Homo sapiens: one gene and its partners. Changing the gene in region 2 together with the main gene of any one other region gives a genetic interaction. Each region holds a gene or a part of one and is shown on either strand. Other genes may lie near its edges.

Evidence for each region. A genetic interaction does not mean that the proteins touch.
Region 1: of TERT (region 2) and ETV1, extra expression of one rescues a mutant of the other (dosage rescue), as found in Homo sapiens cells (one study listed by BioGRID).
Region 3: of TERT (region 2) and MUS81, a change in one rescues a mutant of the other (synthetic rescue), as found in Homo sapiens cells (one study listed by BioGRID).

Annotation. Positions count from the first base shown.
Region 1 is NC_000007.14:13,986,667-13,994,495, reverse strand, and holds the start of ETV1 (ETS translocation variant 1), read left to right. Parts: upstream 1-4,829; 5' UTR 4,830-4,933; intron 4,934-5,031; 5' UTR 5,032-5,228; intron 5,229-5,356; 5' UTR 5,357-5,443; coding exon 5,444-5,488; intron 5,489-5,612; exon of another isoform or gene 5,613-5,652; coding exon of another isoform or gene 5,653-5,682; exon of another isoform or gene 5,683-5,729; coding exon of another isoform or gene 5,730-5,816; intron 5,817-6,322; coding exon 6,323-6,410; intron 6,411-7,810; coding exon 7,811-7,829. UniProt on the Homo sapiens protein: Transcriptional activator that binds to DNA sequences containing the consensus pentanucleotide 5'-CGGA[AT]-3'. Required for olfactory dopaminergic neuron differentiation; may directly activate expression of tyrosine hydroxylase (TH).
Region 2 is NC_000005.10:1,285,062-1,292,091, reverse strand, and holds part of TERT (telomerase reverse transcriptase), read left to right. Parts: intron 1-7,030. UniProt on the Homo sapiens protein: Telomerase is a ribonucleoprotein enzyme essential for the replication of chromosome termini in most eukaryotes. Active in progenitor and cancer cells. Inactive, or very low activity, in normal somatic cells.
Region 3 is NC_000011.10:65,863,403-65,866,939, forward strand, and holds the end of MUS81 (structure-specific endonuclease subunit MUS81), read left to right. Parts: intron 1-7; coding exon 8-100; intron 101-175; coding exon of another isoform or gene 176-197; coding exon 198-319; intron 320-398; coding exon of another isoform or gene 399-401; coding exon 402-499; intron 500-1,094; coding exon 1,095-1,211; intron 1,212-1,317; coding exon 1,318-1,413; intron 1,414-1,614; coding exon 1,615-1,743; exon of another isoform or gene 1,744-1,744; intron 1,745-1,817; coding exon 1,818-1,921; intron 1,922-2,408; coding exon 2,409-2,492; intron 2,493-2,583; coding exon 2,584-2,650; 3' UTR 2,651-3,037; downstream 3,038-3,537. Other genes in the region: EFEMP2 (EGF-containing fibulin-like extracellular matrix protein 2 precursor), read right to left, coding at 3,516-3,537. UniProt on the Homo sapiens protein: Catalytic subunit of two functionally distinct, structure-specific, heterodimeric DNA endonucleases MUS81-EME1 and MUS81-EME2 that are involved in the maintenance of genome stability.

The DNA.
Region 1 (7,829 bases), on a different chromosome or scaffold from region 2:
TTGACATACTAACTGCAACACAACCTCCTGCAACAGAATTCCCACGTGATTTGCTCAAGCCTACGGAATCAGAAACTCTATGAATCCACCCAGGGATGTCACTTTTTAACAAGGAGTGTCTTATATAATCTCAAATTTGAGAACCAACCATATAGCATACTTTTTAACAGGTATATAATGATAATTGAATTCCAAACTATAAGAGTATCATACTTTGTCAAATCCATTTCCTTATTGGTGGATACTGAAGTTGCTGCCAGATTTTTTCCTTGGTACCTAATATTTCAATAAATGTCTTCATGCACCATTGCTTTTATTTTTGTAGTATAGATTTCCCAAATGAGGATTATTGGATATAATTTTAGGGTCTAATAGATGTTCATTTTAAAGTCTAGTAGACATTGTAAGCTTACCTTCAAAAGGTTTCAAAAAGTCACATTCCAACCAGCAATATACATGAGTGCCCTTATCCTAGGATCCAACTCTAAGTATATTAGAAACTTCCTTCCAAATTGATGAGTTAAAACATTCTTTAAGGCAGGGCGCGGTGGCTCATGCCTGTAATCCTAGCACTTTGGGAGGCCAAGGTGGGCGGATCACAAGGTCAGGATTTGAGACCAGCCTGACCAATATGGTGAAACCCCATCTCTACTAAAAATACAAAAATCAGCTGGGCATGGTGGCGGGCACCTGTACTCCCAGCTACTTGGGAGGCTGAGGCAGGAGAATCACTTGAACCCAGGAGGTAGAGGTTGCAGTGAGCCGAGATCGCGCCACTGCACTTCAGCCTGGGTGACAGAGCAAGACTCTGTCTCAAAATAAATAAATAAATAAATAAATAAATAAATAAATAAATAATAAAAATAAAAAAATTCTTTATTTTTTAAGTGTACAGTATAATGTACTGATTTGGGGTGCAGTTAAAAGTTTTTTTTTCCACATTTATAAGTTGTTTGCAATTCCTCTACTTGAGGGAGTTTACAGATAGTCACCAGCTGAAAATGGCAGTATTGAGAGTGAGAGAGTATACAGCTACATAGTATCAGTTTCCTTGATACCCTTACCTTCTTCCCAGGCTCCACCCTCCTCTCAAATTTCTGCTACTCCTCACATACAGTGTTCCTGAAGCCACTGATTATCTTTCACCCTCCTGTGAGGACTCTATGTTCTCCTTTGGAATTATTTTCACTTGTTCATTTTCTTGGCCAATTTTGCTGTTTAATTTTATATCTTTTTCTTATCTATTTGATGTAACTGTGCAAACTAGATCTTTAACAATTTGCCTTACATACTGTTTTAATACAACAAATTTTAAAAGTTACTGTTTTACTTAATACTCTACTCAATTTTGAGCAAACTTCATTTGATTTTAATTATAGCAACCATTTAAAACAAGCAGCGCCATTTTAGCTTGTTGCCTTTCTGTAACTGCTTTTAGAAATTCACTTTCTTTAACAACGTGCAATTTCTTCATAATGCCATAGTAAGTTAACTGTAGAGAAGTCACTAATGAATATTATTTTACTTTATTAAATAACAGCAAGGGAAATATAAAAATTTAAATAGTTTTACATGCAACCTAAAAACTTTCCAAACTCAAAAATGGACTTTTTTTTGGAGGGGGGTAGCTTTCTCTCAAGAACTCTTATTTCAAAATCCAAATGGGATTTCAAAATACAAGCAAATAAATGTCAAAGCCTCTTGGCCTCTGCTCTGCCATTCTATGCCTGAAATCCTGCCAAAATGAAATTTTCCGTTCAAAAGGGCTGGCATTTACTAAACTGATGTTTTAAAGACATTCTCAAAAAGTAGTGGAAACTTTGTCCAGCTTTTTATGTTCCTGTCTTGTAGACAGAACAGCTGCCTTTGCAGATATTTTCCAAGATCTTACATTTTCTGAAAAACAAATTTTCAGCCCTTCCACTGTCTTCAGCAAGTGGGTCTATTGGTTTTTCCCAGTGCCAAGCAGAGAAGATAAACAACTGCCAAACTAGAAGCTAGTGTCTGAGTATCAAGGCATAGAAAGGACAGAAGAGATAGTGTTTCAGTAAGTATCAATGCAGAGAAAGGACAGAAGAGAAAGTGGGAGAAAGAAAAGAGGGTGGTTCAATCGTTCACAGTCAAGAGGGACACATTTATCTCAAAATTTTAGGCTGTTTCAACAAAACCGAGCTGTAGCGAGACTAGCTGCTTATTCACACGAGAACATCATTTTCAGTTACTATGAAGATCAAAGAGTTAAAAGATATGAGTTCGTTTAAAGAACTCAAAAGGGAAAATATGAAGCCACCGCAATACGTAGTAAAATCTGAGGCTTAACAGCGCAGCGCCTGAGAGTGCCAGTCCACTAAAGGGAGGGAGAAGGGGCGCAGAGCTTATGGGGGCCTGGGAAGGAGTGATAAGTCTTTGGAAATGGAAACTAAAGCTATCAGCCAGCGAAAACCATCAATATTCCTAAAAATATATAATACTAATAATACATAAAAGCTTTAAAAAACTAACAAGACACTGTGGGATACAAAAAAAGGTAGAAATGAAAATTACAGAATGTTAAGTGAAAAAACTGAAATCCATCTACAGTCGAACAGTTTGCACCTTTAAAAGCAATGACTTGAAGCAGCAAGCAAAAGTTCCCAGTCCTTAAGACTTTCTCCCCACTCTCAATTCTTTCTTTCCTCTAGTGCAAAAGCTGTCTAAGCAGTGCACGCCGGAATTATCCCCACGTGAGCCTTCCTTTAATTTCGGTCTTAATTTTTTTCTCTCTTGTTATTACTCCCAGACCCCAACCTCTTTTTCCTCATCTAGTATCTGTTTCAGGGACAGGACAAAGAGGAGGCAGCGAGCTGAAAAAAGTTTTGTGGTTTGGGATACTTGGGCCTTTGTTGTGTCATTTCCTCTACCCCTCCACGCCCCCAACCACGTGACCAAGAAGGGCCGGAATTTTGTGAATGGAGACGAAAGGTGGCTGTTGGGGCGGGCGGGACTCCGCCCCCTTCCCTAAAGCGGCCAATCTCCTAGCGGAGCGCTGAGGGGTCAGCAATAAACAACAATGGGCTGGGGATTTACGGCTCGTTATTGGCTGCGGGAAGAACCTCGCCGGGACCTAACCCGAAGCTCCGCCCCCTCGCGGTTACCCTGGATACCCGTCAGGCTCGGGCTGCAGAGAAGGTCTTTGGAAACTGTTGCTCAGATTACAGGCGCTGGGTTATTCCAGGAGTGCAGGGTGGTGGAGGACCCTTGTTATTGACCCCCTGCTTGGTTGCACCCTCAGATAGTACCCATGAGCTTCACTGTTCAGCCTCGGGGCCCAGGCGCTTCCTGGAATCTCTCCTTGGCCGGGGTTAAAATGCAGTTCCCGCTCAAAATGCTTATAGGTGCGCGCGTTGTGAACTCCGATTTAGTAGTTTCCGGGAATGCGCGGGGTCTGTCTTTGCTGTCCATAGTTATTGGTTGTTTTCCCAGTAATAAGTGTTGATTGTTTGTTTGTTTGCTTCTTTTTTAAGTAGATCTTTCTCCTGCCCAGGTCCGGGGTTGAGTGCTGTGCGCTCTTACACTCCATTTTAATGTGTCTCCATAACGTTCTATTTAAGGAAGGAAACTTTCAAATAGAAATTGAGAACTGCAGCACGTTTCCTAACGGGCGGAACAGCTGCCGGAAACGTCTTTTGGTCACTAGTTCTGGTCACAAATGAATTTCAACAGCATTGAGTCCCTGGTCCTATCCCCGCGGCCTCCCGTCCGCTGTTGGACACTGGCTCCTTAAAGTGACGCTTTACTGTTCTGAGTCCCATAGGAGGATCAGGGCAAGTGGCTTCAGAGATGCAGCCCTCACTGCTTAACGTCCTAGTTATTGTCCTTGAAACCCGAGCCATCTCACCGCTCGCCCCCAACCCTGGGCTCTGGCTGTTTAAAAGCTGGAGAGGAAGTGAAAGCGTCAAGTACAGTAAGTGACACCCTCCGCCTCCGTGTATACATAACAAAAGCTCAGGAAACGTGCGGGTTCTAGGATATACGAGCAACCCCAAGCACTCCCTCCTCCTCCCCACAGCCACAGTGGACTGGAAGTACCTTTTCCCAGTGCACACGTAGGGACCATTTTGACTTATACTTTTTCACCTAGCTTGCTCTGTTGTCCTCCCATCACAACCTCTGCTAATCAGCAATTCTGCATCTCCTAGGTGCCTTCCTTATAGATTCTTTATGTTTCTGTCCCACGAACGATAGGATCTAATTTTAGTTGAGGATGACTGTTTAAAAAATGTTTCGATAAACCATAATGGTGATGGTGGGTTTTGAAAAACGGGAAAATAAATTGGGCCAAAAGCTGAGTGGGAATGAGGATAGAGAGCGAGGTGAGCTCCTAGTCAGGGCAAGAGTAGAGAGGTTGGAGATCCTGAGGGGAGGGCAGCTGAATAAGGCGGTACGGGCTTTGTGGATCGCGGCTCTAAGGGTATACCAGAACCGCACAACAGTACTTTAAGGAAACCAGCCCAATAGTGGACCTAACACCCCAATAATGGGAACTGGCGACTCGAAACACACGGTTTCAGTATCCCCAGGCGCCTTAACAATAAGCAGCGGGTTACAGAGGAAATCGAGTCTCTCCGTGGCGCTTCCAGGCTGAGGACCCAGCGCCTACCGGCCGAGCACCCCCTAGGGCAGAGGGGCGAGGGAGACCCGCGGGAAGGGGCAGCAAGCCGCCTGATTGACAGCCCGAAATCTGATCTTGTGAAAGAGACGCGGAGCCAATGGGAGGCAGCGATCCATCAGTTTGGATTGGAGGCCCCTGGAGGAGAAGTAGAGGAAAAACCACCGAATTGAGCTCTGTCAGAGGCGCTTTCGGCTTCCAAGGGGGAAGTGCTGGGCTATAATTAATGTTTTTATTAAATTTGGAGGGAAGTTTTTGCAGCCTTTCGCCTAGCGTGGCCTTCAGGTGGGTCTTTCCAACAACTTTTTATGTCTCTCCAGATAATTGCATGGTTGTGGGTCGCAAAAACTATCCTGATGAAAGAGGTGTCTCCGTCTCTTTAGTCCCGTTAGGTGCAAAGCAAGTCTCGTTGATCGCCATTGCTAGTTTTGCACACGTTTGCGAATCAGAGCTGCCCGGGGTACACCGACCGCGCAGGGAAACATCGAGAGTGTAAATAAATACATCGCCTCTTGTTCGGATTTTTGCTACTACCGAAAATATGTAAATTGTGAACTCTGTTGGCTCTCTTTGGATCCAGGTGAAGGAGGCGGTGTAGGGAGGGTTATTTTTGTGAATGGGACTGTCGGAGGGTAATTAGCTATGCAAATTCAAGAGCTTCATTCATGATTTTTTTTTAAGCCTAAAAGCCATCTTGTTCCCCTCTAGGTTGATAGAAGTCCAGATCCTGAGGAAATCTCCAGCTAAATGCTCAAAATATAAAATACTGAGCTGAGATTTGCGAAGAGCAGCAGCATGGATGGATTTTATGACCAGCAAGTGCCTTACATGGTCACCAATGTGAGTGATCAGTTTGAAAGTTGCTGTTTATAAACTTGACTCCGTCGGGGGTGGGGAGAGGGAGAAAATGAGAAGGGAGGGGGCACGGGGGTTGGGATTGCAGATACTTATCTGCTTTGTTGCCACTGTAGGGCGACTCTGCTTCTAGAAGCCCAGTCTTCAAAATGAGCTTACCTTTCAGTGATTTGGATAAGGCATAGTTTTGTTTTTAAGACCCCTTTTTCTGATTAAAGTGCCCAACATGAGTGGAAGAGGAGATGGAGGGCAGCAGCAGCTGCTGCACTCAAAGTTTTTGGCTGGGTTTGTCTGCCACATTGAAAAGAATGAAGTTGAGACAAATGCTGACACTTTTTGTTTATATGGGGTGTTTTTGTTTCTTTTTTTTTTCTCATTTTCTCTTTTTTTTTTTTTTCATTTCTCTACTCTTTTTGCTTTTTTTTTTTGTGGGGGTGGGGTGGGGAGGAGGGGCTGTCCAAGAGAGAATAAAACCCACTGTTTTAATCTAGCATTGAACCAGCCTAAAAACAACTTTAAGTGTAAATGCTTCAGGTTGTTTTGATGCTGAGATACCATGAATATATGATTGATAAATAGTAATGTGCTAAGATCGGCACTGGGAAGCAACTCTCCCTGCCTGCTTAACATAAGCTTTCACTGTCAAATAAGTGAGAAAATGAATATTAGAGTTGATACTATGGACTTCTATTTTTCTATTCAGAGAAGATCCATTAGACTTATGTATGCATGTCTGTGTGTGTGTGTGTGCGCGCGCGTGTGCGTGTGTGTGATCTGAGGTTTACATTCTTTTAAAGGATTTTATCTTTCCCTTTGTAGAGTCAGCGTGGGAGAAATTGTAACGAGAAACCAACAAATGTCAGGAAAAGAAAATTCATTAACAGAGATCTGGCTCATGATTCAGAAGGTGAGGTTTGATTTTGGGCTGAATCCCCATTTTTTTACCTACACTCTCCACCCTGCTAAAAGAAAAGGAGCACTTCAGTCTTATCTTAAAAATAATAAACTTTGAAATTACTGAATCTAACTAAGACTTTAACTTGGAACGATTTACATAATGCGGCAGTTTGCATGGGAGACTATTTTATGGTCCTATCACAAAGTAATGAAAGAAGGAAATAAAAACTTCTCAATGACAACCTTCTTTTAATCATTGTTTTGTGTTTAAATACCTTTGTCCATGGGGCATATAACTCACCCCATTCACTAAGATAACAATTTAAAAATATCCAATACAGTGGGACAAATTCAGCAGCTATGTACACTGCTTACTTTTTTCTTTCTCCTTTATTACAAGTTAAACAGTATTAGTGATTGTTTGGTTTCCCACCTCCTTTACACTAAAACCATCTACTATTAACAGAATTTTCAAGGGTGATTTTGATGACTAAATTGTGAGGTCATAATACCTTGTTTATCGACCATAATGTGTTCACTGAATCATACTTAAGGCCTCCTTAATAATTATAATACTATTTGGGAAATTAGTTTGCAGATTCTTTTTATGAACTGTTGCTAGGATGTCAGTATGTTACAAATTATTTTAGCCATATGAGGACATTCATAATAAACTTAATATACTTAGATTTAATTATCAAAGTTTAGTTGGCAATTTTAATTAGATATACTGAATTCTGAAACTTCCTCAAATCTTCATACCATTTAAATACCTCCCTCTCTCCCTCCCTAACATGACCATATAGTTTAGAACTTGATGAGAACCTGGTGCCAAAGAATTATCTTTCTGACTTTTATAAACCTATTAATGTAGAAATTTTCCTCTAAAAACTTGTATTTGAAGTGGTTTCTTTTAGTTTCGAGGTATTGAAGTTGAAAACATAATACTTTGACAGTTGTACCATGTACCATTATATATTTTATGTAAGATTCAGAAGATATAAATAAAATGCTTTTCAGTCTTTCTAATCTTCCCCCTACTACTATTTTAGCAAGAGTTAAATATATTTAAGGAAGATTTCAGTGAACAGACACATATTCACCTCAGCCTTTTTGTGAATTCTGGTATCCCTGAGCTTATTTATTAAGCTGTTTGTTAAAAAGAAGAAAAGATGATTGACTTTATTCTTTAGTTGACTAAAATAATTTCTTAAAGAGTTGCTTAATAGGCATGAAAAGTAGGCAGTATTATTGAGATATTTAAGTTATGCCTCTTTTTTTTATTTTTATGTTGACTGCGTCTCTTGAAATTAAATTTATATTTAATACCAATTTCATGACAAATATTTCCATTTAATGAAGATTAAAGATTTGCAAATCTTATGTTTATGTCTTTGACTTGTTTTTTAGAACTCTTTCAAGATCTAAG
Region 2 (7,030 bases):
TGGCACTCCTAACACCGTTTTCTGTGTACAGTGCAGAATTGCTAACTCGGCGGTGTTTACAGCAGGTTGCTTGAAATGCTGCGTCTTGCGTGACTGGAAGTCCCTACCCATCGAACGGCAGCTGCCTCACACCTGCTGCGGCTCAGGTGGACCACGCCGAGTCAGATAAGCGTCATGCAACCCAGTTTTGCTTTTTGTGCTCCAGCTTCCTTCGTTGAGGAGAGTTTGAGTTCTCTGATCAGGACTCTGCCTGTCATTGCTGTTCTCTGACTTCAGATGAGGTCACAATCTGCCCCTGGCTTATGCAGGGAGTGAGGCGTGGTCCCCGGGTGTCCCTGTCACGTGCAGGGTGAGTGAGGCGTTGCCCCCAGGTGTCCCTGTCACGTGTAGGGTGAGTGAGGCGCGGCCCCCGGGTGTCCCTGTCCCGTGCAGCGTGATTGAGGTGTGGCCCCCGGGTGTCCCTGTCCCGTGCAGGGTGAGTGAGGCACTGTCCCCGGGTGTCCCTGTCACGTGCAGGGTGAGTGAGGCGCGGTCCCCGGGTGTCCCTGTCACGTGTAGGGTGAGTGAGGCACTGTCCCCGGGTGTCCCTCTCAGGTGTAGGGTGAGTGAGGCGCCGTCCCCGGGTGTCCCTGTCACGTGTAGGGTGAGTGAGGCGTGGTCCCCGGGTGTCCCTGTCCCGTGCAGGGTGAGTGAGGCGCTGTCCCCGGGTGTCCCTGTCACGTGCAGGGTGAGTGAGGCGCGGTCCCCGGGTGTCCCTGTCACGTGTAGGGTGAGTGAGGCACCGTCCCTGGGTGTCCCTCCCAGGTGTAGGGTGAGTGAGGCGCTGTCCCCGGGTGTCCCTCTCAGGTGTAGGGTGAGTGAGGCGCGGCCCCAGGTGTCCCTGTCACGTGTAGGGTGAGTGAGGCACCGTCCCTGGGTGTCCCTCCCAGGTATAGGGTGAGTGAGGCACTGTCCCCGGGTGTCCCTGTCACGTGCAGGGTGAGTGAGGCGCGGTCCCCAGGTGTCCCTGTCACGTGTAGGGTGAGTGAGGCACTGTCCCCGGGTGTCCCTGTCCCGTGCAGGGTGAGTGAGGCGCGGTCCCCAGGTGTCCCTGTCCCGTGCAGGGTGAGTGAGGCGCCGTCCCCGGGTGTCCCTGTCACGTGCAGGGTGAGTGAGGCACGGCCCCCGGGTGTCCCTGTCACGTGCAGGGTGAGTGAGGCGCGGCCCCCGGGTGTCCCTGTCACGTGCAGGGTGAGTGAGGCGCGGCCCCCGGGTGTCCCTGTCACGTGCAGGGTGAGTGAGGCGCGGTCCCCGGGTGTCCCTGTCACGTGCAGGGTGAGTGAGGCGCGGTCCCCGGGTGTCCCTGTCACGTGCAGGGTGAGTGAGGCGCGGTCCCCGGGTGTCCCTGTCACGTGCAGGGTGAGTGAGGCACGGTCCCCGGGTGTCCCTGTCCCGTGTAGGGTGAGTGAGGCACTGTCCCCGGGTGTCCCTGTCACGTTCAGGGTGAGTGAGGCGCGGTCCCCGGGTGTCCCTGTCACGTGTAGGGTGAGTGAGGCACCGTCCCCGGGTGTCCCTGTCACGTGCAGGGTGAGTGAGGCGCTGTCCCCGGGTGTCCCTGTCACGTGCAGGGTGATTGACGCGAGGCCCCCGGGTGTCCCTGTCACGTGCAGGGTGAGTGAGGCGCCGTCCCCGCGTGTCCCTGTCACGTGCAGGGTGAGTGAGGCGCCGTCCCCGGGTGTCCCTGTCACGTGTAGGGTGAGTGAGGTGCCGTCCCCGGGTGTCCCTGTCACGTGTAGGGTGAGTGAGGCGCCGTCCCCGGGTGTCCCTGTCACGTTCAGGGTGAGTGAGGCACGGCCCCCGGGTGTCCCTGTCACGTGTAGGGTGAGTGAGGCGCGGTCCCCGGGTGTCACTGTCACGTGTAGGGTGAGTGAGGCACTGTCCCCGGGTGTCCCTGTCACGTGTAGGGTGAGTGAGGCGCGGCCCCCGGGTGTCCCTGTCACGTGCAGGGTGAGTGAGGCGCGGCCCCCGGGTGTCCCTGTCACGTGTAGGGTGAGTGAGGCGCGGCCCCCGGGTGTCCCTGTCACGTGCAGGGTGAGTGAGGCGCGGCCCCCGGGTGTCCCTGTCACGTGCAGGGTGAGTGAGGCGCGGCCCCCGGGTGTCCCTGTCACGTGCAGGGTGAGTGAGGCACGGCCCCCGGGTGTCCCTGTCACGTGCAGGGTGAGTGAGGCGCGGCCCCCGGGTGTCCCTGTCACTTGCAGGGTGAGTGAGGCACTGTCCCCGGGTGTCCCTGTCACGTTCAGGGTGAGTGAGGCGCGGTCCCCGGGTGTCCCTGTCACGTGTAGGGTGAATGAGGCACTGTCCCCGGGTGTCCCTGTCACGTGCAGGGTGAGTGAGGCGCCGTCCCCGGGTGTCCCTGTCACGTGCAGGGTGATTGACGCGAGGCCCCCGGGTGTCCCTGTCACGTGCAGGGTGAGTGAGGCGCCGTCCCCGCGTGTCCCTGTCACGTGCAGGGTGAGTGAGGCGCCGTCCCCGGGTGTCCCTGTCACGTGTAGGGTGAGTGAGGCGCCGTCCCCGGGTGTCCCTGTCACGTGTAGGGTGAGTGAGGCGCCGTCCCCGGGTGTCCCTGTCACGTGTAGGGTGAGTGAGGCGCCGTCCCCGGGTGTCCCTGTCACGTGTAGGGTGAGTGAGGCGCCGTCCCCGGGTGTCCCTGTCACGTGCAGGGTGAGTGAGGCCCCGTCCCCGGGTGTCCCTGTCACGTGTAGGGTGAGTGAGGCACTGTCCCCGGGTGTCTCTGTCACGTGTAGGGTGAGTGAGGCGCCGTCCCTGGGTGTCCCTCTCAGGTGTAGGGTGAGTGAGGCGCCATCCCCGGGTGTCCCTGTCACGTGTAGGGTGAGTGAGGCGCCGTCCCCGGGTGTCCCTGTCACGTGTAGGGTGAGTGAGTTGCGGCCCCCGGGTGTCCCTCTCAGGTGCAGGGTGAGTGAGGCGCTGTCCCTGGGTGTCCCTGTCTCGTGTAGGGTGAGTGAGGCTCTGTCCCCAGGTGTCCTTGGCGTTTGCTCACTTGAGCTTGCTCCTGAATGTTTGCTCTTTCTATAGCCACAGCTGCGCCGGTTGCCCATTGCCTGGGTAGATGGTGCAGGCGCAGTGCTGGTCCCCAAGCCTATCTTTTCTGATGCTCGGCTCTTCTTGGTCACCTCTCCGTTCCATTTTGCTACGGGGACACGGGACTGCAGGCTCTCGCCTCCCGCGTGCCAGGCACTGCAGCCACAGCTTCAGGTCCGCTTGCCTCTGTTGGGCCTGGCTTGCTCACCACGTGCCCGCCACATGCATGCTGCCAATACTCCTCTCCCAGCTTGTCTCATGCCGAGGCTGGACTCTGGGCTGCCTGTGTCTGCTGCCACGTGTTGCTGGAGACATCCCAGAAAGGGTTCTCTGTGCCCTGAAGGAAAGCAAGTCACCCCAGCCCCCTCACTTGTCCTGTTTTCTCCCAAGCTGCCCCTCTGCTTGGCCCCCTTGGGTGGGTGGCAACGCTTGTCACCTTATTCTGGGCACCTGCCGCTCATTGCTTAGGCTGGGCTCTGCCTCCAGTCGCCCCCTCACATGGATTGACGTCCAGCCACAGGTTGGAGTGTCTCTGTCTGTCTCCTGCTCTGAGACCCACGTGGAGGGCCGGTGTCTCCGCCAGCCTTCGTCAGACTTCCCTCTTGGGTCTTAGTTTTGAATTTCACTGATTTACCTCTGACGTTTCTATCTCTCCATTGTATGCTTTTTCTTGGTTTATTCTTTCATTCCTTTTCTAGCTTCTTAGTTTAGTCATGCCTTTCCCTCTAAGTGCTGCCTTACCTGCACCCTGTGTTTTGATGTGAAGTAATCTCAACATCAGCCACTTTCAAGTGTTCTTAAAATACTTCAAAGTGTTAATACTTCTTTTAAGTATTCTTATTCTGTGATTTTTTTCTTTGTGCACGCTGTGTTTTGACGTGAAATCATTTTGATATCAGTGACTTTTAAGTATTCTTTAGCTTATTCTGTGATTTCTTTGAGCAGTGAGTTATTTGAACACTGTTTATGTTCAAGATATGTAGAGTATCAAGATACGTAGAGTATTTTAAGTTATCATTTTATTATTGATTTCTAACTCAGTTGTGTAGTGGTCTGTATAATACCAATTATTTGAAGTTTGCGGAGCCTTGCTTTGTGATCTAGTGTGTGCATGGTTTCCAGAACTGTCCATTGTAAATTTGACATCCTGTCAATAGTGGGCATGCATGTTCACTATATCCAGCTTATTAAGGTCCAGTGCAAAGCTTCTGTCTCCTTCTAGATGCATGAAATTCCAAGAAGGAGGCCATAGTCCCTCACCTGGGGGATGGGTCTGTTCATTTCTTCTCGTTTGGTAGCATTTATGTGAGGCATTGTTAGGTGCATGCACGTGGTAGAATTTTTATCTTCCTGATGAGTGAATCTTTTGGAGACTTCTATGTCTCTAGTAATCTAGTAATTCTTTTTTTAAATTGCTCTTAGTACTGCCACACTGGGCTTCTTTTGATTAGTATTTTCCTGCTGTGTCTGTTTTCTGCCTTTAATTTATATATATATATATATATTTTTTTTTTTTGAGACAGAGTCTTGGTCTGTCGCCCAGGGTGAGTGCAGTGGTGTGATCACAGGTCAGTGTAACTTTTACCTTCTGGCCTGAGCCGTCCTCTCACCTCAGCCTCCTGAATAGCTGGAACTGCAGACACGCACCGCTACACCTGGCTAATTTTTAAATTTTTTCTGGAGACAGGGTCTTGCTGTGTTGCCCAGGCTGGTCTCAAACTCTTGGACTCAAGGGATCCATCTACCTCGGCTTCCCAAAGTGCTGAATTACAGGCATGAGCCACCATGTCTGGCCTAATTTTCAACACTTTTATATTCTTATAGTGTGGGTATGTCCTGTTAACAGCATGTAGGTGAATTTCCAATCCAGTCTGACAGTCGTTGTTTAACTGGATAACCTGATTTATTTTCATTTTTTTGTCACTAGAGACCCGCCTGGTGCACTCTGATTCTCCACTTGCCTGTTGCATGTCCTCGTTCCCTTGTTTCTCACCACCTCTTGGGTTGCCATGTGCGTTTCCTGCCGAGTGTGTGTTGATCCTCTCGTTGCCTCCTGGTCACTGGGCATTTGCTTTTATTTCTCTTTGCTTAGTGTTACCCCCTGATCTTTTTATTGTCGTTGTTTGCTTTTGTTTATTGAGACAGTCTCACTCTGTCACCCAGGCTGGAGTGTAATGGCACAATCTCGGCTCACTGCAACCTCTGCCTCCTCGGTTCAAGCAGTTCTCATTCCTCAACCTCATGAGTAGCTGGGATTACAGGCGCCCACCACCACGCCTGGCTAATTTTTGTATTTTTAGTAGAGATAGGCTTTCACCATGTTGGCCAGGCTGGTCTCAAACTCCTGACCTCAAGTGATCTGCCCGCCTTGGCCTCCCACAGTGCTGGGATTACAGGTGCAAGCCACCGTGCCCGGCATACCTTGATCTTTTAAAATGAAGTCTGAAACATTGCTACCCTTGTCCTGAGCAATAAGACCCTTAGTGTATTTTAGCTCTGGCCACCCCCCAGCCTGTGTGCTGTTTTCCCTGCTGACTTAGTTCTATCTCAGGCATCTTGACACCCCCACAAGCTAAGCATTATTAATATTGTTTTCCGTGTTGAGTGTTTCTGTAGCTTTGCCCCCGCCCTGCTTTTCCTCCTTTGTTCCCCGTCTGTCTTCTGTCTCAGGCCCGCCGTCTGGGGTCCCCTTCCTTGTCCTTTGCGTGGTTCTTCTGTCTTGTTATTGCTGGTAAACCCCAGCTTTACCTGTGCTGGCCTCCATGGCATCTAGCGACGTCCGGGGACCTCTGCTTATGATGCACAGATGAAGATGTGGAGACTCACGAGGAGGGCGGTCATCTTGGCCCGTGAGTGTCTGGAGCACCACGTGGCCAGCGTTCCTTAGCCAGTGAGTGACAGCAACGTCCGCTCGGCCTGGGTTCAGCCTGGAAAACCCCAGGCATGTCGGGGTCTGGTGGCTCCGCGGTGTCGAGTTTGAAATCGCGCAAACCTGCGGTGTGGCGCCAGCTCTGACGGTGCTGCCTGGCGGGGGAGTGTCTGCTTCCTCCCTTCTGCTTGGGAACCAGGACAAAGGATGAGGCTCCGAGCCGTTGTCGCCCAACAGGAGCATGACGTGAGCCATGTGGATAATTTTAAAATTTCTAGGCTGGGCGCGGTGGCTCACGCCTGTAATCCCAGCACTTTGGGAGGCCAAGGCGGGTGGATCACGAGGTCAGGAGGTCGAGACCATCCTGGCCAACATGATGAAACCCCATCTGTACTAAAAACACAAAAATTAGCTGGGCGTGGTGGCGGGTGCCTGTAATCCCAGCTACTCGGGAGGCTGAGGCAGGAGAATTGCTTGAACCTGGGAGTTGGAAGTTGCAGTGAGCCGACATTGCACCACTGCACTCCAGCCTGGCAACACAGCGAGACTCTGTCTCAAAAAAAAAAAAAAAAAAAAAAATTCTAGTAGCCACATTAAAAAAGTAAAAAAGAAAAGGTGAAATTAATGTAATAATAGATTTTACTGAAGCCCAGCATGTCCACACCTCATCATTTTAGGGTGTTATTGGTGGGAGCATCACTCACAGGACATTTGACATTTTTTGAGCTTTGTCTGCGGGATCCCGTGTGTAGGTCCCGTGCGTGGCCATCTCGGCCTGGACCTGCTGGGCTTCCCATGGCCATGGCTGTTGTACCAGATGGTGCAGGTCCGGGATGAGGTCGCCAGGCCCTCAGTGAGCTGGATGTGCAGTGTCCGGATGGTGCACGTCTGGGATGAGGTCGCCAGGCCCTGCTGTGAGCTGGATGTGTGGTGTCTGGATGGTGCAGGTCAGGGGTGAGGTCTCCAGGCCCTCGGTGAGCTGGAGGTATGGAGTCCGGATGATGCAGGTCCGGGGTGAGGTCGCCAGGCCCTGCTGTGAGCTGGATGTGTGGTGTCTGGATGGTGCAGGTCAGGGGTGAGGTC
Region 3 (3,537 bases), on a different chromosome or scaffold from region 2:
CACTTAGTGCCAGTGAAGCAGGGGTCCAGCAGCAGCCACTGGAGCTGAGGCCTGGAGAGTACAGGGTGCTGTTGTGTGTGGACATTGGCGAGACCCGGGGGTGAGTGAGGTGGGGAGAAACGAGGGAGATGATCAGAGGAGGCTGGGGGGTAGGCACTGCCCTGCTCTGATCTAGGCTTCCCTCCTTGCCACTCCAGGGGCGGGCACAGGCCGGAGCTGCTCCGAGAGCTACAGCGGCTGCACGTGACCCACACGGTGCGCAAGCTGCACGTTGGAGATTTTGTGTGGGTGGCCCAGGAGACCAATCCTAGAGACCCAGGTGAAGGGCCGTGGACAGGCTGGCACCAGGGGCAGGGCCTGGTGGGTAGGGGATCGCAAGCTAACGGCTGGCTTGTCAGCAGCAAACCCTGGGGAGTTGGTACTGGATCACATTGTGGAGCGCAAGCGACTGGATGACCTTTGCAGCAGCATCATCGACGGCCGCTTCCGGGAGCAGAAGGTAATTTTGCTGGCTTTGCCAGGCTTCCCTGCCTGCTCCGAAGCCCCGTTTTCAGCCCAGAGCAATCCAGGGGCACTTCTGGCAGCCTCCTTGAGGCAGAGCCCTTTGGAATCCAGCCACACCCACCCTGTGGCTGCTCCAGGATCAGACCCCCACAGGCCCATCCAGGCGCACAGTAGGAAGCCAGGTACCTGCATTCTTGGGCTGAGGTCAGGAGCATTTTAAAGACCTCTTGGGTACCCAGCCCCTGCAGTCTTGGATAAACAAGGCATAAACCTCCAGGAGTGGAAATACAGAGGCTGTACCTTGGTACTTGCTGCTGGGTGGACCCCTAGTCACAGAGGCCATGTGCCGGCCCAGGGGAGGCTTGAAGGATGGGCAGTGTTGAGAGATGGAGAAAAGGCTTTCTAGACAAGAGTGTCAGCATGAGCAAAGCTGCGGAGGCCCCTGTGAGGCAGGTGGAGAGGCTAGGGAGGATGCAGAGGCTAACTGGTGGGAACAGGGTCCCGGCACCATTTTGAGTGTGACATCATGGATGCCCAGGCATGTGGTCATCCAGCCTGACCCTCCCTGTCCACTCTGTACACTTCCCTAGTTCCGGCTGAAGCGCTGTGGTCTGGAGCGCCGGGTATACCTGGTGGAAGAGCATGGTTCCGTCCACAACCTCAGCCTTCCTGAGAGCACACTGCTGCAGGCTGTCACCAACACTCAGGTGAGCTGGGAGGGCAGGGCCAGGCAGGCAGGCAGGGGCCCCTGTGGTCCATGGTTCATGGTCTAGGCCAGGAGCCACCTTCCCTCTCTTGGGTCCTCTTCCCCAGGTCATTGATGGCTTTTTTGTGAAGCGCACAGCAGACATTAAGGAGTCAGCCGCCTACCTGGCCCTCTTGACGCGGGGCCTGCAGAGACTCTACCAGGTGAGCAGAGGCCCCTTTCCCAGTGTCGGGACAGAGCCCACAAGGAATTCACCTTGCCTGGGCCCTGTGCATCCCCAAAAGAAGCAAGGTGGGTGAGATCCCCATTTCTCAGGCTGGCCCCCCAAGGCTGAGGACTGGGCAGGGGCTGGCTGGAGTTGTTCCTTCGAGCTCCAGCCTGGCCTCAGTCCCTTCTTCCCTCAGGGCCACACCCTACGCAGCCGCCCCTGGGGAACCCCTGGGAACCCTGAATCAGGGGCCATGACCTCTCCAAACCCTCTCTGCTCACTCCTCACCTTCAGTGACTTCAACGCAGGAGCCATCAAGAATAAGGTACTGTCTCTGCCTAGCTTCTCAGACATGGCCTGGCCCAGACCCCCACTGATCCAGCCCTTTCCCGAACCCAGGCCCAGTCGGTGCGAGAAGTGTTTGCCCGGCAGCTGATGCAGGTGCGCGGAGTGAGTGGGGAGAAGGCAGCAGCCCTGGTGGATCGATACAGCACCCCTGCCAGGTAGGCCCTAAAGGGCCCTTAGGTGTCCTCAGCCCCTGCCCTCCATGCATGGAATTCACCTTAATCCATGCTTCGTGGAGGGGGCCTGGCCTTGTGTGGGCTCTGCAGACCAGAGATAGACAGATCCCAGGGTGCTCGTGGAGGTCAAGTGGGGAGGAAGCCAGCAGGCCCACATAGTGTCCCAGGTAGTGGAGGCCACAGGAGGGAGGGAGACGTCCCACCTGGTGGAGAAGAGGCTTCCTGGAGAAGGGGTTGGGCCATTAAGGGGAGTGAGGGTGAAGGTTTGGAGCCTTTGCTGGTTTTGCCCCAGAGTTCCCACAGGGAGGGAGGACAGCCCGGCTGGCATGGGGCCTTGAGTGCCAAGCTCAGGAAGTGGGGCAGTGTCCCAACTCTTCCATCCCATGCTGACCCCTCTGCCTGGCCCCTCATGGTGCTGGCCCAGAGTGGGCCACTGTCAGCCTCAGAAACTCAAACCCCTGCCCCCCAGCCTCCTGGCCGCCTATGATGCCTGTGCCACCCCCAAGGAACAAGAGACACTGCTGAGCACCATTAAGTGTGGGCGTCTACAGAGGTGAGGGCAAGAGACGGAACCTGGAGGGAGTGGCAGGGACTGGGGCTGCCCTAGGCCCAGGGCGTGACCCTCGCTGCCTCTCTTCCTGCAGGAATCTGGGGCCTGCTCTGAGCAGGACCTTATCCCAGCTCTACTGCAGCTACGGCCCCTTGACCTGAGCTTATGCCGTGAAACAGCCCCCAGCCCCCGTCTGTCCCCCAACCCAGGCTAGCCAGCCTTTTAACAACATCTTTTGGGGTACAATTAGAATCTAAGTGTTTGCAGCCATATGTGTCATGTAGAAGATGCCTAGCCCTGGGGACCTTGTGAAATACGCAGGAACCAGGGATACCATCTGGTCCAGTGGTTTTTAAACAAAGCTGCTTAGCACCTGGAATTCCCTGGTCAGGGAGATGGAGTCAGTGGGGCATTGCAGCTTGGAATCTATTTTATGTCACCAGTTGGTCCTCATCAAATAAAATTTCCTTAGGAGTGCAGAGGGCTCATTGGGAAAATAAAAATAATAAAAATAAATAAAACTTCCTAAAAGAAAAGATTGAAAACCACTAACAGTCCAGTTGCCTCGTTTTATAGAAAAACAGGCCCAGGGAACTACTAGGGCTTATCCAAATGTACAGTTTGAGGCAGAGTTAGGAATGGAACCCAGGGCCTCCTGGCGCTGTCCAGAGTGGAGTTTCTTAGGACCCCTGCAAGCCAGCCAAGTCCAAATCTCTGGGCCGGGGCCTGGAGTCCGCCCTCCTCGTTACCTCCTCTCCTCTCGGGGTGACTGAAGCTCGTGGTGCAGAGCTCCCAGCTCCTGTCAATGGGGGCCCCTGGGCCTGAACATATAGAGACCCCCATTTAGGTGAACTTGGCCTGCCCCCCCAAGTGCCACCCTGCCCCAGCCTGAGGCTTCCTGCAGTGTGACCCGCCCACCTCAGCCACCAGGACTTTCTTTCTCCCTTTATTGCCTTTCTCATTCTGCCCCTCACAACAGGCTCCTCAGCTAGGGTAGCTGCAGGGAGGGTGGCTCCCTCCTGCTCCTCAGAAGGTGTAGGCCCCTACA